4 separate regions of the Homo sapiens genome follow, and all the other regions are linked to region 2. Evidence: fine-mapped expression QTL. A gene starts in region 2. Each other region holds a variant in brackets. All regions are shown on one strand. Distances are from middle to middle. Region 1 overlaps TOM1 (target of myb1 membrane trafficking protein). Region 2 holds the start of TOM1 (target of myb1 membrane trafficking protein). Region 3 overlaps HMGXB4 (HMG-box containing 4). Region 4 overlaps MCM5 (minichromosome maintenance complex component 5).

Evidence for each region. PIP is the estimated chance that this variant, and not a neighbour inherited with it, causes the effect.
Region 1: its variant is the best candidate, but not a certain one, in a credible set for the expression of TOM1 in whole blood (INTERVAL, PIP 0.87).
Region 3: its variant is the best candidate, but not a certain one, in a credible set for the expression of TOM1 in whole blood (INTERVAL, PIP 0.66).
Region 4: its variant is the best candidate, but not a certain one, in a credible set for the expression of TOM1 in whole blood (INTERVAL, PIP 0.53).

What each region holds. Positions count from the first base shown.
Region 1 is chr22:35,325,779-35,330,925 of GRCh38, reverse strand. TOM1 (target of myb1 membrane trafficking protein) reads right to left here. Exons shown (of 15, transcript NM_005488.3): 7 at 3,539-3,655; 8 at 446-579. Among named protein-coding and RNA genes, the nearest start is that of MIR3909, 7.3 kb to the left of the region's middle. RefSeq lists enhancers at 66-566, 2,056-2,350. The variant C/T (reference allele first, on the strand shown) is at 2,633.
Region 2 is chr22:35,296,922-35,302,068 of GRCh38, reverse strand. It overlaps TOM1 (target of myb1 membrane trafficking protein), which reads right to left and starts at 2,175. Exons shown (of 15, transcript NM_005488.3): 1 at 2,089-2,175. The coding sequence starts at 2,140. RefSeq lists enhancers at 510-1,031, 1,442-1,601, 1,555-2,077, 2,002-2,151, 2,078-2,600.
Region 3 is chr22:35,268,476-35,273,622 of GRCh38, reverse strand. All of the region lies in intron 5 of HMGXB4 (HMG-box containing 4), which reads right to left. Among named protein-coding and RNA genes, the nearest start is that of HMGXB4, 14 kb to the right of the region's middle. The variant T/C (reference allele first, on the strand shown) is at 2,155.
Region 4 is chr22:35,405,729-35,410,875 of GRCh38, reverse strand. It overlaps MCM5 (minichromosome maintenance complex component 5), which reads right to left. Exons shown (of 17, transcript NM_006739.4): 5 at 4,151-4,323; 6 at 2,313-2,468; 7 at 1-132. Among named protein-coding and RNA genes, the nearest start is that of MCM5, 8.2 kb to the right of the region's middle. RefSeq lists enhancers at 228-367, 448-667, 758-817. The variant T/C (reference allele first, on the strand shown) is at 2,117.

The sequences.
Region 1 (5,147 bases), 29 kb before region 2:
AGCTACCCATTTAATAAAGATTATTATCCTAACAAATTCTTTTTCTGCCTAAGTTAGCCAGAAATGTTTTGTGTAGCTTGCAGCAGTGAAGTCACTTGTCTAAGGCCCCAGAACCAGGAAGTGGTGGAGTGGGCGAGGACACACCAGGCCAGTCTGGTTGCAGGGCCGTGCTCTCAGCTGTGACCTGTGACCATCTCCCAGGGCTGGACTTGGGCACAGGCAGCAGCGCTAACCCTGGAAAGGAGATACAGGGCGGCTGGAAGGAGGGGCCCTCATAAACATCCTGGAAGAAGACAGCTGAGGGCACAGGCCCTTAGGAGCCTGCCTTGTGTTTGAGAGGAGGACGAGAGAAGGCTCAGATGGCATGAGACCAGGAGAACAGGGAGGAAGGGAAGGGAGAGGGTTGGGGCAGTAGGCCAGAGGCCAGGGGAGGTGCTGGGGCTACCGTTCATGGCGCAGGAACACATTGTTGAGATTGTCATTGACGATGAGCAGCTCCTCTGTCAGCTGCTCATTGGCGATCTGAGGGATGAGCTCCAGGACCCGCTGCTGCATGGCTCGGCACGTGCGGTTGAGCTCCTGCCAGGAAAGGAAGTGAGGCAACCACAGTCACATGACTCAGAGTGAGGCCGTCTCTTTTTTTTTTTGTGAGACGGAGCTCTGTCGCCCAGGCTGGAGTGCAGTGGTGCGATCTTGGCTCACTGCAAGCTGTGTCCTGGGTTCATGCCATTCTCCTGCCTCAGCCTCCCAAGTAGCTGGGACTACAGGCGTCTGCCACCACGCCTGGCTAATTTTTTTTTTTGTAGTTTTAGTAGAGACGGGGTTTCGCCATATTAGCCAGGGTGGTCTCGATCTCCTGACCTCACGATCTGCCTGCCTCGGCCTCCCAAAGTGCTGGGATTACAGGCGTGAGCCACCGCGCCTGGCCAAGTGAGGCCATCTCTAATGCACGGGCCTCCAGCCCCTGCACAAGCCTTGGAGGAGGGTGAGGTGCCCAAACTGGACTTCAAGGTTCCACGGAACAGCTTTTTGGGTTCTACAAACATGAACTTGAACTTCACTTCCAAGTGTTAGATGCTAAAATTTAATCCACAGGAAACCATCAACATGTCCAACTGTGCTGCCGGTTTAACTTGGCTTCGTGCAGATTCCAGAATAAAGGTTGTGCCACCATCTTTGCTTAGTCAAAAAAAAACTGAGTCTGCAAAGGGGGCTGGCTGAACAAACCACAACTTCTGGGGGTATGCTGTGATTTTTGCAACCAAAGCATACAGAATGAACTAGATGACTGCAACCATTAGCCACAAACCTCGATTTCGAGTTTTTGCCTCACTTTTCTCACTGCCTGATTTTTTGTCTTTTTAAACAAACTTTTAGCTTTGGAATAATTTTAGATTTACAGAAGAGATGCAAAGATAGTACCACAAGTTCCCATATACCCTTGACCCTGGCTTCCCCTTAGTCTGGCATTTGTCAAAACTGGTAAACTACCATTAAACATTAAAACTGGTAAAATACTATTAACTAAACTGCGGACTTTATTCAGGTTTCACTAGTTTTTCCTCTAATGTCCTTTGTTTGTTCTAGGATCCTACACTGCATTTAGTTATCACGTCACCGACTTTTAACCACTAGGTGTCATATTTAAACTTATGAAAAATAAAAAAAATGGCTACACCCGGTGGCTCGTGCCTATAATCCCAGCACTTGGGGAGGCCGAGGCGGGTGGATCACCTGAGGTCAGGAGTTCAAGACCAGCCTGGCCAACAAGGTGAAACCCTGTGTCTACTAATAATACAAAAATTAGCCGGGCATGGTGGTGTATGCCTATAATCCCAGCTGCTTGGAAGGCTGAGGCAGGAGAATAGCTTGAACCCAAGAGGCAGAGGCTGCGGTGAGCCGAGATCGCGCCACTGCACTCCAGCCTGGGTGACAGAGCAAGACTCCGTCTCAAAAAAAATAAAAAAATAAAAAACCATAGCCATATGGGTTTTCATTTTTAAGATTGGTCAATTATTTCTTCAGGTACCTGCCACCAGGTGAAGGTTCCTGGGTCACGGCAGGTGCCTGGGTCCTGAGGTCCAGGGAGCTGCCCGGCATTGCCGACTGTGGCCTCACGCCAGCACGCCTTTCTCCTGGAGGCAACGCTGAGGCTCGGCACTGCCCAGTGTTTATTTTGGCTGTCATGTGGACCCTGTCCCCTGCCCCCTCCAAGGTCAGGCCTCCGGGATTTCCTCATCGCCCTTAGCACGGGGACAGGGCGGGTGCCTTTCAACATCCTGTGGGCTCCCCTCCTGCTCTTATGACCAAGCACACGGTGGCTTTGCTTCTGCTTCCCTGCTGGCCCCTCTCAAGAGCAGAAGAGCAGCACTTGGAGCCAGGCCCCCGGGTTCAAATCGCAGCTCTGCTACTTACCAGCCATATAACCCTGGACGTGTTATCTGATCTCCCTATGCCTATTTCCTGACCTGGAAAATGGGGGTGGTCAGGATTACGTGAGCGATGTGAACCAAGTGTCCACATATAGCCCGGGACACGGGAAGTGCCCAGTGCATGGGAGCTGTCCCTGCATCCACCTTGCTCAGCCTTCTGAGTCCCCAGACTGCTCACATCTCATGGCCTTGGCTTGGGG[C/T]GTGCGAGGCTGCCTGCGCAGTCTTCTCTCTTTCGGAGCCCTTACTGGGTTTCAAGTTTGTGTATTCACTGGACTCTGAGGCTACTCCTTTTCTCCCCACCCTGCACCACCAAGTGAGGACCCCTGCAGAGTCAGCTCGGTCAGGCACACAGACACGGTGGCGAGGAAGACACAGCGCTGCCCTCAAGGAGCCTGAGGCCTGGTGGACGAGCAGTAGGAACTCGAACAGTTACACGAAGCGCTCTGTCTCCTCATGGATTCTGGTGACTCCTGGGCCTTGGGGATTCCTAGCTCTCTTGGTGCCTCTATGACTGGCCTCCATGGGGAGGGTGCTTTTTGCCAAATTCAGTGTCCCTTCTGCTCCAGTGACCCCCAATCTGGGCTGGGGCCGTGGGAATACCATGTGACACCCGGGAGCAGGAACCACTAGCTCCACCTGCCTTGGCTCCCCAAGATCAGTGGCTGGCGCATCTCAAGGCTGGCACCACCCTCTCACACCTGCCTGCTGAGTCTCGGATTCTGAATGGTGTAAATCTCACCTTCCAGCTTTTTCTCAGGACCCCTTACTGGGTGCTTTACTCTGTACCAGGCACAAGCCTGCGTGTTTTTCATGCAATACCTTATTTAACTCACATCAAACTTGTGCCATGAAGGCTATTGTTAGAGCAATCTTACAGATGAGGAAACTGAGGCCAGGGGGGCTACTTTGTTCAAACCAGAAAGTGGTAGAGCTGCGATCTGATTCCAATCTGATGGCGTCCAAAGTCCCTGGTGGTAACATGTCCCCAACTGTGACCAAGGAGTATGGAGTAAGCCATGAAGACTGTCATGAGGATTGGGAAAGAATGCATGTGGGCAGCTGGGCAGGAGTCATCTGAGCCCCAGGGGGTGGTGCCACCTGCTCACCTGCAGCAGCTCCAGGTCTGCGGGCTCGGCCTGGGTGGGCACCAGCTCCGTCAGCATCTCCGACATCACCCTCACGTTCCCACTCACCATCTCCAGCTCACTGCGCAGCTTCCCAATCTGAAACACACAGTTGATCGTGGTGAGAGAAGCCAGGGTTCTGGGGCCCATGTTACTCACAGCGACAGAACCCAGTACCACCAACCCTGGGTGCAGCACCAGGGAGCCGACCTCCCAGCAGCCTCTCTAGGCAGCCTCCCTCCTGGCTCCCAAAGTGACAGCTCTGCACTAGAGGCCTGCCCCACCCCTTCTACAGACCCCTCACAGAGGCGCTACCAACCGTTACCATCTCCACACCGGAATGAGCCACCACGTGTGGCTGGAAGACTCCAGCATCTCCTGGGTCTAACACAGCAGCTAACAAGGCCCTGGAGGGTGGCTCCCCACAAGGCGGGGAGGGACGCTGCAGGCCCTCTCTCTCTCTCCCACTAGAGGACTGGGATTCTGCCCTCTCTCTCTCCTCCTAGAGGACTGGGATTCCGCCCTCTCTCCTAGAAGACTGGGATCCCCCCCTCTCTCTCCTCCTAGAGGACTGGGATCCCACCCTCTCTCCTCCTAGAGGACTGGGATCCCGCCGTCTCTCTCCTCCTAGAGGACTGGGATCCCGCCCTCTCTCCTCCTAGAGGACTGGGATTCCGTCCTCTCTCTCTCCTCCTAGAGGACTGGGATTCCACCCTCTCTCTCCTCCTAGTGGACTGGGCTTCTGCCCTCTTTCTCCTCCTAGTGGACTGGGATTTTGTCCTGTTTCTGGTCTATTTTGGTGTCCCAGGCTCATCTAAGGATAGTCCTTGCCCTGTACCCCACCTTGAATATGAAACTCAGATTTAGCACTTGTTCCAAGGGATGTGGGCAGGTTTTCAATGGTCAAAGGGTTCCAAGGAGTTGGGCTTGGGGAAACATTTTCAATAAAGCTGCAGTCTCCTCAAAGAGGTTAGCTTGTGAAAGGCCATTGGTATAAGGATCTTATGCTGTGGGACCTTGTAGGGTGTTTAATGCCCTCATGCACACTGGGAATGCCTGGGAAAAGATCAGTCTGAAAGCTTCTAAGATTTATTTGACTGAAGAACCTTTTTATGTTTTGAGAAATGCTGGTACATTCTAAATCATGTGGCTGAGTTATAGTTGATTTCAGAGTGTCACTATATACATTCATGATTGTGACAGCAGCTACCATTTATAGACTACCTAATAAGTGCCAAGCATTGAACATATATTGCTAACTTAATTTTTTACCATGGTAGACATCAATATCCCTGCTTTTATAGATGAAGAAATGGAGTGTAGAGACTAGTAGTATATCCACTATGGTTCACTGACACCTTCCAAAACCTGCAAAATGTTTGATCTATTTGGCTTACTTAATGAACACTCTTGGTATGAGTGAGTGGAAAAACTACTGATCACAAACCCCATGTATCCAAATCAGATGGGACTTAATTACAGAGGAGTCTGGGAGTAACATCACTGCACACCTGATGTCTTAACATGTCCCAAGAGACAAAAGGGGACTCTCGAATTAAACAAAGATTAGTTTTGTTTAGCAAGCACCTTC
Region 2 (5,147 bases):
AAGGTAAGAAGAGAAGTTTGCTTTGATTAGCTGAAATCCAGAACCCAGGTGAGCTTTTCCAGAAAGCCTTAAGAGTATGTGGCTGACTTTGAAGCCAGGTCTTTTATTTACTTGTTTATTTTTAAGTAGTAAGTCTTAAACTTGGCATGTGATAAAAGCAGTGGTTTCTGTAGTCAGAGAAATATAGATGAGAGGAGAGCTGCCTTCTCTTTTCAGCTCCAAAAAACCATGACTCACTGTGGGGTGGGTGTGTGTCCGGGGAGGGCAGGGGTCCTTTGAGAGGGCAGTTCCTCTCCCTGGTTCAGGAGCTTCCTGGTGTGTAAATCCTGGACTGCCACCTCCCCCTTGGAGAGCATTGATTACAAAACCTCGGAAGAGCCACCGACAGCCACGGTGGCGATTACAACACAGAGCCGGGTCGACAAGCTTTCGTGAGGTTTCGCAAGACACTAAGAATGGAAAATATGTCTCATCTTAAAGTTTTCCCAGTCTGGACTTAAGACGAAAAGTCGTCATCAAAAAAGATGAAGAGTAATTTCACGGTAATGCGATGGTTTCTTCATGCAAGAATGCGGAACACCCAAACCATCCTCCGGAGAAGTGTGGCTGTTTGGGTGAAGGCATGTCGGTTCTCATGGTGTTGGTGCCCAAGAATGAGCACCTATGAGATCTACTGCCAAGCGATTTCCAGGGATTCCTAACCTTCACTTGGTGATCTCAGGAACAACGTGTGTGTGTAAATACATATAATATATATGTATGTGTATGTATATGTATGTTTGTATGTGTATATTTTTATATATATGTGTGCGTGTGTGTGTGTGTATGTGTATGTGTTTCAAGAGATGGGCTCTCCCTGCGTCGTCCAGGCTGGAGTACAGTGGCGCCATCAGGGCTCACTGCAGCCCTGACCTCCCAGATCCAATAAATCCTCCCAGCTCTGCCTACCGAGTGGCTGGGTGCACAGGCACGCACCACCACGCCCGGCTAATTTCTGTATTTTTTTTTTTTTTTTTTTTTGTAGAGACGGGGTCTCGCCATGTTGCCCAGGCTGGTCTCGAACTCCTGGGCTCAAGCGATCTGCCCGCCTTGGCCTCCCAAAGTGCTGGGATTACAGGCGGGAGCCACCGTGCCCAGCCCAGTGATAATAAATATTACAACTGTTTTTTTTTATATGGCACTGGCCATGTACCAGGCATTGTTCTAAGTATTTCACATTTATTAAGGAATTTAATCTTCACAACAAGCCCACGGAGGTGGGGACCATTATTGCCCGCCAACTACAGGTGAGGAAACCTCGGCCCAGGGAGGCTGCGTCACAGAACTGTGAGTATCCTGTCACCAGGGTGCAGAGAACCACGGACCAGCAGACAGGCGCCAGGTGCCCTGGGCTTGGCTTGGCCCGAGTTCCCGGCTGCCCCACCTACGGAGCACCGAGATGGGCTGACCAGGAGGGTTTGTCCGACCACTGTCTGCTCAGGTTCTGAGAGTCTGTGCGGGTCCATTTGAGGTTGGGTCGAGAAAAGAGCCCAGGCGGACACGTCCTGAGACCCGGGTCTGTGAGGCCTGGCCGCGGGCTGTCCGGCGCTGGGCCCCTCTGGCCAGTTGGCCCCAAGACGCCAAGCCCGGGGCTTCGCGGTCCTGGGAGAAGGGACTTCTAGCCCTTCTCAGGTGTCTGTGTCCGGAGGGCCCGGTGAGCCAGGAAGGAGCTGGCCAGAGCCCAGGCGGCGGGACCCAGCAGAGTGGCCCAGCCACTGCCAACCACGCAGTCCCTTTAACCACGAAAACTTTCTCCCTCGATTGGGGACCCCAGCAGACGCACATTGGCTGCGCCGTGGGCATCCGGACCCACCCTCTCTCCTTACCTACTGGCTGTCATATACATCTATCACAAGCCAAGGCTTCCTAATGGCCCAAGTTCTTGTCAATCAAGAGTGGGAGGAAAGCTGGGCGGAGCCAGGTCGGAGAGCTACACGCCAGCCTCCTTGCCCTCCCTGCCTCCGTGACTAGGCACCCGGAGGCTTCCCAGGGGACCGAAGCTGGGTGCGGAGCACCGGGGCGGAGCTGTGGGGGGCTCCAGGGACTCACCGATGCGCTGTCCCACTGGAGAGCTGAACGGGTTCCCCAGGAGAAAGTCCATTGCTGCTACCGCCGCTGCCACCAACCCCGGGAATCAGCTGACAGCAACCGCCAGCGCCACCGACCCGTCACGTGACGCACTCGGAGGCCGGCGAGGAGGCGTGGGCGGGGCGGTGGCACCGCGAAGCTCGACCACAAGCCCCGCCCTGAGACGCCAGGGTCCCGCCCCCGAGGCGGAGGGCGATGACCTCACTGCGGCTTGCTCGGCGGCGGCGGGCGTCACACACGATGTAGGGTCTGGGGTCGGGGCCCGGGAAGCGCGGTCCTCTTTAAGCCACGCCCCTGACCTTTTAGGGCGAGGTCTAAAGGACCCTTTACACATTTGGGAAACTGGGTCGTAGACCAGGGAAGTGACTTGGGTGAGTTACACAGAAGCCGAGACTCTTAGGGTCATAGCCCTTAGTCCTTGGGACCTCACTGTGACTGCACACCTACCCTGGGTGACAGCCTCTCTGGGCTGTTGTCTCCTTGTCCCGGTAAGACTCTTCCTGTTTGATGTCAAGGTCTCCCCGCTCCAAGATGCACCCTGCTCGCAGCCCAAATTATCTTACCTTAAATCAGAGGCAAGGGCAAGGGGTTTGTCATCTGTTGAGACTGAGAGGCAATTTAATGAATTGCAGCGCAATTCCCTCTAGCGCCCAGGATGGCAAAAAGCACAGATGTAGTCACGAGTGGGGCTTTAATACCCGTCTCTGCCATAAATTTACTGTGTGAGCCAAACATAGCTCCCATTTTCTCTAGATACTGGAATTAGATCAAGGACTCGTAACCATTTTTAAAAAATATTTTATTTAGGTCACAGTCTCCTTTGAGAATTTGACAAAAGCCATGAGCCTTTCTGAAGAAAAAAGGCAGCGATACAATTTTGCTTATAACCTCAGGGAGTTTCTGGGGTCCCTGAAGTACAACCGTGGACCCCAAGCTAAGAATCTCAAAGGCCTTTCCCAGCGTTGTGATTCTAATCTCTTCAGCCTTCCTGGCTGTGTGTGGTGTGTCTGCTGACACCTACACACTAGATACCTATCTATGGGTTATGACCTTTTCTTCTGGCATGTACTCCAAAAATACAATAACCATGGCCTTAGTAGTCTGGCTACTGTGGGTGCTTAAGTACTTATTGTGATGTTTGTGGTTTTTAAATCTGAAAGGCTAGTAAATTGACTGCACAAATTTTGGATGACAGAAAACCTAAATTAAGCAAGGTGTGGTGGCTCACGCCTGTAATCCCAACATTTTGGGAGGCTGAGGCAGGTGGATCACCTGAGGTCAGGCATTCAAAACAAGCCTAGCCAACATGGTAAAATGCCGTCTCTACTAAAAATACAAAAATTAGCCAGGTGTGGTGGTACACGCCTGTAGTCCCAGCTACTTGGGAGGCTGAGGCATGAGAATTGCTTGGACCCAGGGGGGCAGAGATTGCAGTGAGCTGAGATCGTGCCACTGCACTCCAGCCTGGGTGACAGAGTAAGGCTGTGTCTTAAAAAAAAAAACAAACCTAAATTAGAACTTAATCACCTCTGTAGATTCACTTGTTTGAGCAGCCATGGGGTCCGATGTCTTTACTGTACAATATAAAAACTGCTTTGAAGTGTTTCCACAACACTCATGAGACCTGTTCACAAATGCCTTTGCCCCCACGAGTCTGGATGTCCCTGGGGGCTGGGCTACTATTTCTGTTTTGCTCCCCACTATTGTCTAACCCAGTAACTAGCACATGAAAGCTTAAATAGATCTACGTTTCAGTAATGGTATTTGGAGTATAAGCGGGGAGAAGGCCATTTAAGATGACCTTCAGGTCAAGGCACTTTCCATGTCTTTCTTCACTTAACCTTATTGCTTGGTCATATGGAGTTATGTTTAGCATGAACTTCTTTTGGATTCTTCCATTAACCTTTATTTATTTATTTTTAGAGGCAAAGTCTCACTATGTTGCCCAGGCTGGTCCTTGAACTTCTGAGCTCAAGTGATCCTCCCACCTCAGCCTCCCAAAGCCCTGGGTTACAGGCATGAGCCACCATCTCTGGCCCTTCCTTTAAGCTTTTAACAAGTTCTTGTAAACTTTATTCATGGTAAAAAAAAAAAAAAAAAAAAACAAAAAAAAACAAAAACAGAGACAACTCATATGCCCCCAAACAGGAAGTGGAATCATAAACTCCATGCAGGCTGGGCACGGTGGCTCACACCTGTAATCACAGCACTTTGGGAGACCCAGGCAGGCAGATCACGAAGTCAGGAGATCAAGACCATCCTGGCTAACACGGTGAAACCCCATCTCTACTAAAAAAATAGAAAAAATTAGCTGGGCGTGGTGGTGGGCGCCGTGGTGGGCGCCTGTAGTCCCAGCTACTCGGGAGGCTGAGGCAGGAGAATGGCGTGAACCTGGTAGGCGGAGCTTGCAGTGAGCAGAGATTGCACCACTGCACTCCAGCCTGGGAGACAGAGCGAGACTCCGTCTCAAAAAAAAAAAGAAAAACAACTCCATGCAAACTGATTACTATATAGCTATTGAAACAGAAATGGAAGTATATGGATTTATTTATTTATTTATTTTTAAAGACAGAGTCTCTGTCACCCAGGCTGGCGTACAGTGGTACAACTGTAGCTCACCGTAGCCCTGATCTCCTGGGCTCAAGTGTCTTCCCACTTCAGCCTCTTGAGTAGGTGGGACTGCAGATGCATGCCACCATACCTGGCTAATATCTTTTAGTTTTTGTAGAGATGGGGTTTTGCTATATTCTCCAGGCTGGTCTCAAACACCTGGCCACAAATGATCCTCCTGACTTAGTCTCCCAAAGTGCTGGGATTACAGACACGAGCCACTGCACCTGGCCAGTATATGGATTTTATCAACATAGTAGATAGGGATGTAAATGGCAAACATTAAAGTTAGTACAAAACTGATTAAAACTGTCTTTAAAAAGTGTGCTAATAAGGAGCAAACTGATTTAGTAAAAAGTGTTTCAATTTACTTTTTAAGTGTTTTAGTAAAATTAATATCATGCCTTACT
Region 3 (5,147 bases), 28 kb after region 2:
GAAATGAGTGGCTGAAAACAAAATTTTAAAAAGATGTTTTCAAATATATTTTGTGCTTTTGAAGAACTTAAGACGTAAGCGAAAGTAACTGTAACAGCTGACATTTACTAAGCCATGCCCTGTGCTAAGCATGTTACATGCACCACCTAATTTAATCTAACCCCAATTTACAAATGAGCAGAAGTGAGAAAGCAATCTCAGGAGAACAGACCTAGTAAGTGGCAGACCAGAGTAAGAATCCAAGTCTGCTGAATTTGAGTCAAAGATCTATCATGGCACGGAGTAACCATGTCTTAAAGTTGTGGAAAGGCATGTGGCATAGTGGAAAGATTATAGCTTCTTCCTCCGTCAGTGGGGCTAATGATAATTATTAATCAAGAGTGGTAACATTCGGAAAATGCCTAGGAGAGCCTGGCACTCAATAGATGGTAGTGACTAATTTCTACCATTTATTGTTGCTGTTACTTAGCCTCAGGTTTGCCAGAGAGAGAACTAATGTAACAGCATCACAAGTCTAGTTATGTTTCAGACTTTTGTTTATTAGATCAACAATGTCTGGGTGTGCCAGGCATTAGGCTACCTGGCCCTGCCTTAGGTTTAGAGAAAATGTGCATATTTTGGAAACACACAGATAACTAAAGGCATGTCTCTGAAATGGCAACATTACGGGATATTATTTATTTATTTTCTTGAGACACAGTCTCGCTGTTGCCCAGGCTGGAGGGCAGTGGCGTGATCTTGGCTCACTGCAACCTCCGCCTCCCGGGTTCAAGCGATTCTCCTGCCTCAGCCTCCTGAGTAGCTGGGATTACAGGCACGCGCCACCACGCCTGGCTAATTTTTGTACTTTTAGTAGAGATGGGGTTTCACCAAGTTGGTCAGGCTAGTCTTGAACTCCTGACCTCATGATCCACCCACCTTGGCCTCCCAAAGTGCTGGATTACAGGTGTGAGCCACCACGCCTGGCTATTATTTTAAGTGACAAAAAAATGGGCTTTTATTTGGGGTAAAACCAAAAGTAAGGTATATTTAAAATGTAACTGTATCCTGCTCCTCCTATATAAATGAAAAGCTTCCACTGCAATGAGATGATCTTTAGTGGGAAATCATCAAGATATTACCATATAATTTCTCTACTCTTCCTTAGAATGCAGGACTCAAAACCAGTAAAACCAACCAACCAACCAAACAAAAACCACCTCCAAAACAACTGAAAGGCTACTTTTCACCCAGGAAATAGTGTAATTTCCCTTCTTTGTGTCAGTCAAAATTCTCAAGTAAGAGCCCACCGCTGCTGCGTTCACTTCCACACCGCTCACTCTTTCCTCAACCCCTGATCCAGCTCCATTCCTACCTACTGCACTTGAACTCCTTGGCCTCTCTAGCATGAGATTGTTCTACTCTTGAAACTGTTTTTCTCCTCCCTTCTGTGTTTCTCCTCCAACATAGCCGCCCCCTCTTCCTTCTCTTATATAAATGCCCCTGTATAAGTGTTCTACAAAATTCTGCTCTGAGCTCAATTTCCTCTTATCCATTTACCTATTTCATTTATCACACATGAACACCCAATTTCTCACCCAAGTTCCAGCCAAATTCTGGGTCTTGAACTTCCATTGCCACTGAGATGATTATAATATTTATTGAATGCTCACTAATGTGCTGAGCATTGTGCAAAGACAAAGTTCTCCAATGTTCTTGGTTCACAGTGCTTATGTGGGTTTTCAATGTGGTAGTTGCTTTTTACCTCTAGAGCACACACACTTGGCTTTGAAAAGATATGGCACTACTGAAAAGAATGTAACATACATTGTTGAAACTGGGAATTACTTTGAACTAGTAGTTCGTAAGGTATCTGAGAGATGTCAAGTATTGTTGTTTGTCTCAAAATGTATTTAAAATATCAAGCGTTGTCCTGGTGAGTCTGATGTGGCGTCCCAGAGCGCCTTGGCACACCGAGGCCCTGAACACTTCCGCATGTATTGCCTCATTTAATCCTCACAACCCTAGGAAGCAAGTCTGTTATCCTCAACTTAGAGATGGAGTTGTTCTGTAACTTATCCAACATCACATTGTTTGTAAGTGGGTGAATAGAGCCAGGAATTGAACTCAGGTGGGTTCCACAGCCCACGCTCTCAACGACTTAGCTATGTTGAA[T/C]CTCCCGATCTCAATTAACTTATCTTCTTCTCCCAAACCAGCTATTCTTCTCACCTTCTCTATTTTTATTAGAGTCCTGGTCCTAGAATCTAAGGTAGAAGGGGTGCACAGAGGCCTTTGGCATTTCTACCAGTAGTTTCTCCAGTCTCTGCTCACTGTAGGTTGAAGAAACACTACTCCTAAATCATTCTTTTCTATCTCTGGGTGGACTTTGTCCCTGACTTTTTATTTATTTTTTTTGAGACAGGGTCTTGTCATATTGCCCAGCTGGTTGTGAACTCCTGGGTTCAAGCAATACTCCTGCCTCACCCTCCTAAGTAGCTGAAACTCAGGTGCTTGCCACCATGCCTGGCTAATTAAAAAAAAAAAAATTAAGAGGTAGAGTCTTGCTGTATCACCTAGGTTGGTCTCAAACTCTTGGGCTTGAGTGATCCCACCTCAGCCTCCCAAGTAGCTGGGATTACAGGTGCATGCCATTGCGCCTGCCTGTCCCTGACTTTTATACAGTTCTTTTTTACAGTGAAACAAAACCCAGGAAAATATATTTTTAAAAAGCTTTATAGGAATTTTTTATGCACAAATCAGGTTTAAAAACCACAGTATATACACTATAAATATTTGTTGGAGAAATAAATGATTAAATTCAGATTATGACTACTTCAGATTTTTTGGACAGCCACAATCAAAGATATTAACTCTTAATAAGGTTTTTGCTATAAATTAAAATTCATTTTTCACTAGCAACTGCTAGCCACATGGGCAAATTATAGATAAGTCCTTAACTTTGAAGAGCTTACTATTTTTCCAACGTTATCTAGGTTCAAAGCTGAAGAGATATTTCTTAGACTCATTTATGTTTCTGGCTTCCCAGATACAAGCCCACTAGGTCAGCGGTCCTCAACCTTTTTGGCACCGGGTACCGGTTTCGTGGAAAACAATTTTTCCATGGACCTGGGGCAGGGGTAGGGGCAGAGTTCGGGATAATTCAAGTGCATTCATTACATTATGCCTTTTATTTCTATTAGTATTACATTGTAACATATAATGAAATAATTATACAACTCACCATCATGTAGAATCAGTGGGAGCCCTGAGCTTATTTTCTTCCAACTAGATGGTCCCATCTGGGGGTGATGGGAGACAGTGACAGATCATCGGGCATTAGATTCTCATAAGGAACCTGCTGGGGTTTGTGCTCCTATGAGAATCTAATGCCGCTGCTAATCTGACAGGAGGTGGAGCTCAGGCAGTAATGTGAGCGACAGGGAGTGGCTGTAAATAGAGATGAAGCTTCAATGGCTTGCCCGCCACTCAACTCCTGCTATGTGGCTGGTTCCCCACAGGCCGCGGACGGCTACTGGTCTGTGGTCTGGGGACTGGGGACCCCTGCTGTAGGTAGATCTTGTCAATTTTTCCTTCAGAGCCTCTCTTGAATCAACCTCTTCAATTTTATTTCTCTCAAGCCTTTTTTTTTTCTTCTTCTCTTTAAAAGAGACAGGGTCTTGCTCTGTCAACCAGGTTAGAGTGCAGTGGCACAATCACAACTCACAGAAGCTTTGAACTCCTGGGTTCAACTGATCCTCCCACTTCAGCCTCAGGAGTAGCTGGGACTCCAGTCATGCGTCACCACACCTGGATCTTGCTAGATTGCCCAGGCCAGCCTTGAACTCTTGGACTCAAGCGATCCTCCTGTCTCTTAGATTTTCATTACTAACCTTCTGGACTATAGTAACTCCCTTGGTTATTCGTCTCTCCCTACTCTAATCCACCTTGTACAACTCTATCATTTTATTCTTATCATTTAGATCATAAATAAACCTTGCTTATAAACCCCAAACTGCCTGCTGCCAAGTCCTTTACTTTGGCATTTAAGATTCTCTACAATTTGCTCCCAACCTACCTTTTCAGTACTATGTTTTCATCCACATATTCATTCGACATATACTTACAAAGTGCTTATTAAGGACATTGAAGAGTTGAAGATACTATAAGGTGGTAAAGGAGCTTACATTCTGCCCCAAGCAGACAGTGCTGCTAAGTTAAAGAAATTGGGTGTAGCCCCTTCTATGAATTCTATTTTGTTTGTTTGTTTTGAGACAGTCTCACACTGTCACCCAGGCTGGAGTACAGTGGCACAATCTCGGCTCACTGCAGCCTCTGCCTCCCAAGTTCAAGCAATTCTCCTGCCTCTGCCTCCAGAGCAGCTGAGATTACAGGCGCATGCCACCACACCCAGATAATTTTTGTATTTTTAGTAGAAATGGGGGTTTCACCATGTTGGCCAGGCTGGTCTCCAACTCCTGACCTCAAGTGATCTACCTGCCTCTGCTTCCCAAACTGCTGGGATTACAGGTGTGAGCCACTGCACCCAGCTCCTTCTATGAATTCTAAGCATCAGTCTTCCCTTATAGTCTTTAATAAGGGAAACAGAATATGTACAAAGATAATGCCAATATAAGGAAGAAAATAAGTGCAGTAAGACAGCAAGGTAATATGGGAGTTTAGACGTTAATTCTAATGAGGGGTGTACAGAATGTCTTAGAAGAGGTGGCATTTGATTAGGTCTTGCAAAGAGGGCAGAGCTTCAATATGTAAGAAGAGGAAGGTCACTGTAAAAAATGAGCAAAGGAATAGAGGTAAGAATGTATGGGAAACAAGTCTGATTTCCATACAGTGTATGTTTAATAGACTAATAAGAGGTAAAGCTGAAAAGGGAGGATTAGGCTAAATCCAGACACTTAATGAATGTTTGGCTAAGGTTTCAACTTACCTGATATTTATTCCTTTGACAAGTATTTACTGACTGTCTACAATAGGCCAGATGGCAGGTTATACACTAGGGATAGCAAGACAGACGTGGTCCTGGTCCTCTTGGAGCTTAGAGTCTACCAAAAAAGCAGTAAGAATCCACTGAAGATGCAGAACACAGGACTGCCGTCATCAAGGTGCTACTTAAGATTAAGATTACTCTAGCATCAATGTGTGAGATTAAC
Region 4 (5,147 bases), 110 kb before region 2:
CGGATGTAGGAGCTTCGGATGCCCACGCCCACCCTGTCACGGCCCCTGCTGGTAGTCAGGCCAAACTTCTTGATGGAGTAGATGCCCATGATGGTAACCCTGTTCCCAGGGACGACCTTGTCACACAGGTACCTGAGAGGAGGGTAGAGGAGAAAGGAGAAAAGCTGAGATTCTGACTTGGACAGCAAGTCTCTGATTCCACCCATGCCCAGGACACGCAGGGTCCACTGCAGCATTTTTGCCACAGGCACCACATGCTGAGCTGGCTCCAGCCCCACGGAGCCCAGAGAACGGCCTCTCTCCCCACGTCACTCAGCCCATGCTCAGCTGCTTGGAGGATGGTGTTGCCCACAGTGACAGCCAAACAGAAAGGCAGGTGGTGGCCTGACTCTCGCTGAACTCGCTAACTCATTTGTACGCTGGTTTAGGAGGCTTAGTGCCAGCCCACAGAGCCCTCCAAAAGCCCCATCTCCACGTGTCTGCTGTCAGCTCACTGTGTGGTGCCCTTTAGCCTCTCAGGGCAAGACTTCCTCTTCACGCCCCCCAGCCTCCTTGAGGGGCCACTCGCCCTTTTTGCCTCTTCATGGCTCTGTGAGCTCATTTTGCCTCTGGGTTTTCATTTCCTGTTTTCAAAATGAGATGTTGAAACAGGGAAGTCTCCAAGTCCCCCAGTCAGAGACAGGGTGGTGTGGAGGGACACTTAGTCGCTGTGTGACCTCAACGAAGTCATTGCACCTCTGAGCCTAGGGGGATGACGAAGTGGCCTGCCTCTCATGTTGTGGAGTCAGGTGAGGCAGCAGACATAGAAGTGCTTTATACCATCAGGCATCACAGCTCCAGAAAAGACCATCACCGTCACTCCATGAGCCTCCAACTCCCCTCTTCCCATACCCACTTCGTAAGTTTTCAGGATTCATGAACTGCTTGGAAAATCATACATCCTGATTACGTAATCTGCATGAAGGAATTGTGCTAAACACCACATGCATTTTCAAGCAGCCCTCTGAGAGATTAAGGACTGTCCTTATCCCCATTTTACTGATGAGGAAACTGAAGCTTGACAAAGTCACATAACTTGCCCAGGGAGCAAGAGCCTGACCCCTACATACTCTGTTGCCACTAATGAAGTTAACAGAAGCTACAGATCCGCTCTCCTCAGAACATCTGCATGCAATTTCAGGATATGCAAGCCCAGGTTAGAACCCTAATCAAAGATCTCAAAACCTTCCACCCAGGTTACTATGAGGGGCCCAAGCTCAGTACCCTCTCCCCCTCAGTAGAATCTTTTTTGTTTTCCTTTTTGAGACAGGGTCTCGCTCTGTCACCCAGGCTAGAGTGGAGTGGTGTAATCACAGCTCACTGCAACCTCAACCTTCTGGGGTCAAGTGATTCTCCCACCTCAGCCTCCCAAGTAGCTGGGATTATAGGTGTCTGCCCCAACACCCAGCTAATAAATTTTTTTTTTTTAGATACAGGGTCTCAGTATGTTGCCCAGGCTGGTCTTGAACTCCTGGCCTCAAGCAATCCTCCTGTCTCAGCCGCTCCAAGTGCTGGGATTACAGGCATGAGCCACCGTGGCTGTTCAGCAGGATCTTAACAGAAAGCCTGGGGTACGCTGGGCGCAGTAGCTCACGCCTGTAATCCACGCACTCTGGGAGGCCAAGGCGGGCGGATCATGAGGTCAGGAGATCGAGACCATCCTGGCTAACAAGGTGAAACCTCATCTCTACTAAAAAATACAAAAAATTAGCTGGGCATGGTGGAGGGCGCCTGTAGTCCCAGCTACTCGGGAGGCTGAGGCCGGAGAATGGCATTAACCCAGGAGGTGGAGCTTGCAGTGAGCCGAGATCGCGCCACTGCACTCCAGCCTGGGCTACAGAGCCAGACTCCGTCTCAAAAAAAAAAAGAAAGCCTGGGGTAGGAGGTGGGGTGTCAGGCTGGGAAGAGGCTTTGCCAGCTATTGGTTATCTAGCTGTGCATCCTGGGCCTCTTATCCTAAGAAGAACACAGACTTTGGAAAGCAATGCACATAGGCTGAAAGCCCGGCTCTCCTCCACACAGGAAGTCATTTAATCTCTCCAAGTTACATTTCCTCATCTGCAAAATGGGGCTGACA[T/C]GCCCCTGCAGATTATGGAAAGACGAGATGAGAGGAACTTATGGAAGCATTAGGCACAGAGCAGGTGCTCTGCAACTGGCCACCTTCTCCACCCTACTCACCCTGCTCCAGATGACCCACTCCCAACACTCGGGTTAGGGCCACAGCTGGGACATCCACCGTCGTAGATGCCCACCTCCCAGCCCGTCTGCCTCACCTGTCGCAGTAGAGCTGCATGTGTCTGGGCATCTCCCCGTGGGGGACTGCATCAGGCAGCTCCTGCAGCTTCAGGGTCTGGAAGTCCACGCATTTGCATTTGTCGGGCATGATGAAGTACGGGTCCAATGGGCATTTGGGGCGCCCAGCCTGATCTCTGTACAAGGTAAGGGAAAAGAGTCACCAAAGCTACCTGGAGAATCCAAAGGCAGGGCTCATTCATCCCAGGAGCCAGCAAGGAGACGTTGCCAGCGGCAATTTATGGGGGTCTCCAGAATAAGCTGGAGATAAGCCAGGCAGGCAACGCTGCCTGGAGGTAAGAAAGGAAGGCAACACTGACGGACCTAGCACTGGATTAAGAGTCAAGGGAACTGCTTGAGGCTGGGTCCTTCCATTAACTTGCTGAGAGGAGGCAGACAGGTCACACTCGGTCTTCTTGCAGGATCATGGTGTCCTCATGGGTGAAGAGCTAGTTCATCAATTCTCTTACTAAAGCCCCACTCAAATCCCAAGATCTTTTCCAGTGGGATTCTAGGCAGTTCTAGACCATTCTGAGGGTCTAAGCCTCTACGTATCCCTAGGTAATTATGTCATTATTCAATAGATATTATAGCAACATAAAGAAGTAAACATCATAGCAAAACCTACTATGTGTCTGACACTATTCCAGGTGCAGGGGGCACAGCACTGAACAAAAAGGTCCCTGCTCTTGTGGAGCCTAAGTTCCTATCAAGGGAGGCTGAAAAGACATACAAGCAAACAATCATATTAAAGAGTGACAGCTACATGCTGTGAAGAAAAGTAAAAAAGTAGGCAGGTGTGGGAGAGACGAGGTACGTGCACACCAAACTGAAGATGAAGGGTTGGGCAAGATGCCCCTGGTAAGGGGACATGTGAAGAGAAGCCTGAAGAAGTGAGGACACAGACTATGGTAGCTTGAGGAACAGCACTCCCAGTAGAGGAAACAGCAAGGTCAAAGGCAGTGAGACTGGGGGTAGTCAGTGTATTCCAGAAACAGGAAGGAGGCAGTGAGGCCGGGCCTGGAGAGAGGAGGGGCAGCGAGGCCTGGGGAAGCCAGGAGCAGATCGTGGTGGGCTGTGCAGGACTTGACTAAGAAGTAAATGACTGGACCACCTGAGTGTCAAGGGACACCTGGCTGCTGGGTGGAAAACAGACTGAGGGGGTGGAGGGTGGACGCGGGGGATCAGGGAGGAGGTAGCGTGCCTCTCCAAGTGAGAGATGTCAACAGCATGGAATGAGGCAGCTGTGCCACAGGTGGATGGGAAGCTGAGGAGGCACCAGCGAAGGAGCCAAGAAAGAGCAGCCAGTGAAGAGGGTGGGGTTCCTTCAGACTGGGGGCAGCAAACATTTTCTAGAAAGGGCCGGAGGATGTGCATTCCAGGTTCTGCCAGCCAAGAGGCCACATACCCTGCCTTTGTAGTGCGAAACCAGCTGTGGGCAATACTTAAATGAACGAACGTGTTCCTGGGCCATAGGGTCAGCAGGCTAGATCTGGCCTAGTGAGCAAACCATAGTTTGCTTCAGAAGATTCCAAGTAGACTCATTACCCTGGACTGCTTTTCCCTCCCAACCCTGGGTTCCCTACAACGCTGTCTGGGTATCCTGGTGAGACAGAAGTCACCAATGTAGAGGGACCCTGTTCATGGTGTCTCAGAGCCACAGGGCATCAGATCTGTGCCAATCCTAAGGGCACACCCCTGCCCAGCCCATCCCAGTGGATCTCTAGAAGCAGCTGCAGGCAGTGCTTGCTACTTGTTCTCATCCTTTCTGATCTTCACTCAGGTCACCTCCCACAGTCCCTCTGGGCCACAGACTCACGTGTTGCACTTCCTGGGCAGGGCATAGCCCTCGAGGCCAGGGCGCATGGCAATGTTGGTGAGGGTGTTGCGGCAGCTGCGGCACTGGATAGAGATGCGGGTGGCCTTGGCACGGACCGCAGAGGCCGCGATGATGATGCCAGGGATCTTCACCAGGTGTGACATCATGTCCGACTGTAATAGAGCCATCGGGAAGCTTGTTGGTTAAGGGGAGCCAGGACGCATCTGAGATATGCCAGTAAATATCCTGGGCAGGAGCCTGGAGGAGGTGGGCACAGAGCTGCAGGGAGGGCCACAGCTCTTCTGTTCCGCTCAAAAAATGCTTCCAGAGCATCCACCCAGTGCCAGGCTATCTGGACCCTGGGGTTCAGAGGAGCCTCAGGCACAGCTCCTGCTTTTAAAGACCTCGCAGCACAATTGGGGGGGGAGGTGGCAGGGCAAGAGATACACTAAGCACATTTCACTACAAAGTGGCAGGTGCCAGGAGAGAGACCTGACCCCAGCTCTGATGGCGACATCCTTGGACCTGTAGAGTACAACACAGAACAAACCTGGGAGGCAGGGGCCCACATTCTAGTTCAAGTTCTGTCAAAACCTGCTGTGTGGTCTTCTGTCTGGGTCACTTCTCTTTGAGCCTCAGTTTCCCCATCTTAATGACTATTCCCACACCGGACAATAAGGCAGTAATATTTTTTCTTTTTTCTTTTTTTTTTTTTGAGACAGAGTCTTGCTGTGTCGCCAAGGCTGGAGTGCAATGGCAGGATCTCGGCTTACTGCAACCTCCGCCTCCCGGGTTCAAGCGATTCTCCTGCCTCAGCCTCCCAAGTAGCTGGGATTACAGGTAACTGCCACCATGTCCAGCTAACTTTTTGTATTTTTAGTAGAGACGGGGTTTCACTATGTTGGCCAGGCTGGTCTCGAACTCTTGACCTCAGGCAATTCACTGGCCTCGGCCTCCCAAAATGCTGGGATTACAGGCATGAGCCACCGCGCCCGGC